Linked DNA regions of Homo sapiens: region 2 is linked to region 1. Evidence: fine-mapped expression QTL. Tissue or cell type: esophagus mucosa. Region 1 holds a variant in brackets; the other region holds the start of a gene. All regions are shown on one strand. Distances are between the middles of the regions.

Region 1 (2,910 bases):
TGCTGCTGAAATTCAGTCTTCAGCAGAAACCTAGCTGTCTCTTTGACTTGAAATGTGTTGTAAAATGTATAATAAACATCTATTAAACAAACAAAAAAGAAACTGTGGATAGCATACTCAGTACAGACCTTAAAAGTGAACTTCAGATGCATCAGTATTTTCCCCAAATGCTCCAGAAATTCTTGACCATAACCAATTAGACTTTATTGAAATTCTATAGAGTATAACGCACTGTTCTACATCAAGGGCCAATTGCTACAAATAAGAAATGATTCTGGCATTTTTTTTCCACCTCTCTCTTAATCTTAGGTCACGGTGCCTCTATATTTTTGCACCAAATTTACTTTCCTCTGAAATCTGTCAAATGGAAATAAGACGCTGCGTGTTGCTCCGTAGAGTCTCACCTAAGGGATCTAGCCCCTATGTCTTTGTATTCAGAAACTGGGGTCACGTGGGGCCAAATGGAAATGAAAAGGGCTGGGAATATAAGCATGCTTAGATGGAGACAGGCGACAGCCACTGGTGATGGACCCTTAAATTAGCAAAGTTCAATCCCACCCCAATTTTCTAAGAACTTACTGAGTACCTGGAGGAGCTGCCTTAGGAATGTATCTACAGCTAATGAAAGGTGACCCTTCCTGCGACTCTCCTGCCTCTTCAAACAAACAAGTTCTTCCCGCTGTAATTGGCCCATGTCTCCTGCCCTGTCCTTTGAACCTGCCACCATGCACTTTTGCCCCAGGGGATGTCAAGCTGGGTTTCAAATTTCTCTGGTATGCATTAGCTTTTCCTTTTATGATAAAAAGCTCAAACATCAGGACTCTTTGCTGGACAAAGCAGGGGAACTGTGGAGCCTGTTGTCCTTGAACTGAAGACGTCAGAGGGACCCTCACTGTGAGATGGACCCATAGTCACATCCATGCCTGCTGGCTGGGGAGGCTGGGACATTGCTATGAGGGTCCATGCCCATACACCTTGTGAAGGGGAGAAAAGGCAGCATGGCTGCCCCCACCCTCTCCTTTCCTTTCCTTCCACACTACTTGTAGGGGAGAGGCTTTTTGGTAATACTGTGTTAACTAGCCAGAGACTTCATTAGAGTAACAAGATATTGATTGAGTTTATTAAGCTATGAAAAGTGTTGAATAATAGCAAGAGACAGTGTTGTTTGTCTTAGAAGCTGGAAGAGCTAAAGCCTCAAGTATGGGCCATCACCCTCCAAGATAGAGCCAGTGCCTGGAGCGGAAGGGGACAGGGAAGGTCCTGGGAACCCCAAGAAAGGAGGTGGAGAAAGGCACGGAGAGAACCCCAGGATCCATCTGGCAGAAGATCCCAGGAGAAAAAGCAGATTGTGAGTGATCTGCTAAGAGCCTGACATTTTTCTGATCATGAGGATTCCCTATGCAGCTTTCCAGGAGCCAGGGCCAGCTAAGGGTTAGACAAAACTTCTTCCTACAGTTGCAACTTGGAGGCTATTTTGAGAAGGAAATATTATATTGTTCCTAATTGTCCCTGAAAGCTAGTAGGTTAGAATGAACATTCTGCAAGGACTTCAGAACATAAAGCAGTGTGCACCTTAGGCTAGGGTGGTACCCACCTCCCTACCCTACCAACGTGCTTCCAGACACACAGAGCAAAT[G/C]AGTCATTGCAGTGAACGCCCAGGCTCAGAGGGCTGCAGGGAAGTGGGTGGGGACGGCCTGGATGGGAGCTGGCAAGGACACCTGCACTCCGTCAAAGAGGCCCCCAGCCACCCGAGGGGAAATCCAGTCTGCCGGCCCTATCTCATCCTGTCTTCCAGTCACCTGGCGAGGAAGAGGTCAGCCATGGGGAGAGTGATGGTGCCTCTGGAGCGGGGCCTTGACCTGCTGTCCAGATGGGTTTGCAGAGTCTCTGGCTGGAGGAAGGTGGCTGCCTCTCTGGCTGCCCTGATGTGCCTGCCAGGAAAAGGAAAGCCTGGTGTGTCCGGCCAGTTGTCCGGGCTGACCGAGGCTGCCGTGGACGACCTGCCCTCTGAGTTTCCTCTCTCCTTCTCTCCACCGCCTCTCCAGTGTGTGGTCCAGGCGGCTCTTGGCACCAGCTTGTGCCTCGGTCTGAAGACCTCACAGGCCCTCTGGGGATATCACTTTCCTCTTCTGCCCCAGCTCTGCATAACAAGGACCATGCAGAGTTCCTCCCTGTGATCTCATGACAACAAAATCAGATGCTCAGCCAATTCCATGGAAAAGCAGTCTGTCACATCCACCATTTTGCTTCATGCAGACCAACCACCCACTGCACCCATCTATTTTGGTGGTAATCCACATTGTATGATAACTGAGATCTATGTTTTTAGGCAGAGTGTAACTGCTATTTTATTAGGGGTTTTTAGCTCATCAAGATGGTGTTTGCAGAACCTAACAGAGCGATAAATTTGTTTGTTTTAATCGTTTCCTTTTTTTTCCACCAGAGGTTAATTGTTTGGTATTCTTTGTTAAACTAACACTTTCGATGGGTTAAGAACCACTAAAGCCACTTAAATAAACAGACTGTTCAGGTAAGAACAGGAAAGCTAGCATAGACACAAGCTATTAACTGTCTGGATTGGGGCCTGGACTGTTAGTTAATTAACATTCACAATGATGTGGATTCACTGGGAGATTTTTGAAATACCCATTAACTGCTTAAAAGAAAGTGTTGACTTTCTTTTTTAGGTAGAGGAAGAAAATTCCCGAAATTTTATCTTTTTAAATTATTACAATAAGCCCTATTAAGTAATGTCATATTGCCCTTCAAAGGTACCACCTACTTTCATTGCTATTATTTTTAATTTAATGTTTCACATCAGGAAGAAACATCTATTTCTGTTGTCTCATTGTTGTTCATAGGTTTTTAGAATCTAGATTATTCGAGCTTCATAAAATGATTCAAAGGAAT
Region 2 (2,910 bases), 370 kb before region 1:
TTTCTCTCCCCCTACATTCACTTGAGTAAGTCTTTCTATCTCATCATACCACTGAATCAGCTCCTGTCAAGGTCACTGGTGAACTCCACACTGCCAAATCAACAGTCAGTTCTCAGTTCTACCCCAACTTGTCTCAGGAGCACTTGATGGAGGAGAAAGAAGTTACTTCTCCTGGAAACACTATTATTTCTTCCACTCGCTTCTTCCTCATGGATCATGTCTTTGATTCCTTTGCCAGGTCTCCTCTTCCCCCAGCCTTACTGTGGATGATCCCAGGATCAGTCCTTACACCTCTTTATTAATATTCATTCTATGTCTCACAAAGACCATCACAGGCTGACAGTGAGCAAGTTTATATTTCAGACATGGGTCTCGCTCCTGAACCCAAGATCTGAATATTTTAATTGCCTATTTCATCTCCACGTGATGTCCAATGGGCACTTCCAACTCAATACGTCTTAAACAGAACTCTTGATCTTCCCCATTTCCAAACCCTGGCAAGCCTTTAACCTCTCTGCTCTTATTTCCTTGCCTAGAATACAGGGCACGTAATAGCAACAGTGCAGGCTGGAGCTACAGTGCCCGGCTTGGCACTGTTCACTTGCTGTGTGAACTACTTCACCTCTTCATCCCCAAGTTCCCTCATCTGTAAAATGGAAATAACAATATTAACAGCCCCTACGTTACAGGGTTGCTGTGAAGCGGTTAGAACAGTGTCTACAGGGTCAGCGCTGTAATACCTGTTGGAAATTATTCTTACGAAGACCAAATGAGGTAACTTTGTGCAAGTGCTGTGTAAACGACACAGTGCTAGGCACACACTTCTTTCAGTACCAATGCCACTCGAGTCTGTGAAAAGCAAATGTCAATAATGCTTTCCCAAGATCTTTCTAGACTTAAATTTCAGGACCTAGGTGTTTCCACAAAGCACCGTATTTGTTACCGTGAAAGATTAACAAAAAAAGCAGACAAAATGGCATAGTGCTTCTCAGCAATAGCCCCTAAGGGCTTGGCAGGTATACGGAAGACTGGGAGCTCATCCCCATGGGGTGGTGGGACGCGTAGGGGAGGGGGAGATCTAAGTGTATGATTTTCCTTGCTCACAAGAAGCAGATACTCTATCCCGAGGCATATTTGAATTTCCTAAAAGGAAAAAAAGTGGGGGAGAGGAGGGAAGTTGAGAGGGGAGGAGAAAAGAAAAGAAAAAAGAAAATAAGAGAAGCAGAAAGCAAGCCACCTTCTGGCTTGGGGAAGCCCACTCCATGGCTGTGGCTGGGAGCCCATCACTTACGCGTTCGACATTGCTGGCTACTTTCCCTCTTTTCCTCGCCCTCCGGGAAGCTCTTCCGTTGCTCTCTGAAGGACGGTGGCAGCAGGGGTCAGGGCACTACCAGGAGCTACAGAGGATTTGGGTGGGGGGTCTTCTGGAGGGAGAAACCAGGACTGCGAGAATCTTCTGCTTCGGGCAGGAAAAGGTGAGGCCGGGTTTGCTTCGCAGGCACGGAGCGCGCAGGCGCAGAGAGGTGTTTCACTCCTTCCCGTCGCGACCCAGAGACTCGCGAACCTCACTTCGGCCACTCAGGTGGGCGCGACGCGGCCCTAGCAACGGAAACGCCGCGCCTGCGCATTGCCTTCCGCCTGCCCCCTCCCCCCCCCCGCCCCCCGCATTCCGCGCCTGCGCCACCGCGGGAGGCCTGGGTGGGCGCAGCTGTGGGAGCCGGTCGGAGTCCGAGCGCTCCGTCGCGGGGCCCGGCCGCTTGGCGAGCCTGCTCCGGGCCCCAGCACTTAGCCTGTGGTCCTCCAGGCCGTCTTCCCGCTTTCCTGCTGGCCCCATTTTCATCCACTGTCAGCTCTGCGGCCTTGGGCAAGGCCCTTAATGATGGTGGTCTTCAGTTTTCCCATCTGTAAACTGGGTATAACAGTCGTTCGTTCAGAACTTTACTGGGCATCTATTCTGGGCCAAGTGCAGACTTAGATTCTGGGCACCCAAGACTTAGGCAGACGCGCCCTTCGGAGACTTAATGAGTATGAACTAAGGCGCGGGTGCGTTGTAAATGTAAAATGCAGTGTGGATGCTATTAACAGTTATCCGTAAGTCGCTATGAGTGTTGGCTTTCATTGCTCTTCTTTCTTCGACTTTAGTAACTGTTGAGGTTTATTTGCACATTTTAGACCCTGCAGCTCCTATTGGAACGCCAGGTTTAATGCTGTCAAAGGCGTGGAGAGGACATCCAGGTAAAAATTATAATCAGGATCACAAAACCTCTCCCCCACCATTACTAATGAAATGCGCAAAAGCATAGTAAAAGCCAGCCCTCCGCACCGCCTTCAAATAATGGAGCAAATTATTTCTCAGACGAGAAATTGAGTACAACCTTGTACCGTAAACTTCAAAAACTCAGTGAAATAGCAGCTTGCCGTGGAGAATGGTGTCCAGCCTCATCTCCACCCTCCCAAAGCCCTTCAGGGGGCAGAGACCAAGTAGACACAACACCAAGAATTCTCATTAATGCTTTTTGATGCAAAGAATACACACACTGAAAAGAAGGGGTATGAAAGGGTGAGCCGAACGAGGAAACACCTGGGGAAATCCGGCCAGATAAAACCATCCTGAGTGGAGGTCAATCCCTACCGCTCCCAGGACCTGAGCAGGGACAGGAGAAATCTCCAGGGCTTGCCTTTTTCTAGGTCCCTACATTGAATTGAGGCAAAGATTCAAAGTCAAAGGGCATGTTGTCACAGGAATAGGGCACACTCGTGACAAGAGTGGGAGGATGGTGGTAAAGGAGCTTATCAAAATCTCAGAAGAGAGCACAGAGCCTGGAAGTTGTGTGGATTCAAGGGAGCAGTCCTTATCCTAAATGTGTACTCAGGTTCCAGAAAAGCAGAGAAAAGTGCAGTATCTCAGCT

Alleles and levels. Positions count from the first base shown, and alleles are read on the strand shown. Sizes are in standard deviations (SD) of each study's normalised expression.
With allele G in place of C in region 1, the expression in esophagus mucosa of the gene that starts at base 1,511 in region 2 is higher (moderate effect, 0.51 SD a copy in GTEx).

What was found. PIP is the estimated chance that this variant, and not a neighbour inherited with it, causes the effect.
Region 2: it holds the start of DRC11, and the variant in region 1 is the best candidate, but not a certain one, in a credible set for the expression of DRC11 in esophagus mucosa (GTEx, PIP 0.53).

What each region holds. Positions count from the first base shown.
Region 1 is chr2:236,874,331-236,877,240 of GRCh38, forward strand. No RefSeq gene overlaps it. Among named protein-coding and RNA genes, the nearest start is that of COPS8-DT, 210 kb to the right of the region's middle. The variant G/C (reference allele first, on the strand shown) is at 1,637.
Region 2 is chr2:236,505,966-236,508,875 of GRCh38, forward strand. It overlaps DRC11 (dynein regulatory complex subunit 11), which reads right to left and starts at 1,511. Exons shown (of 19, transcript NM_024726.5): 1 at 1,292-1,511. The coding sequence starts at 1,302. RefSeq lists a silencer at 1,637-1,686.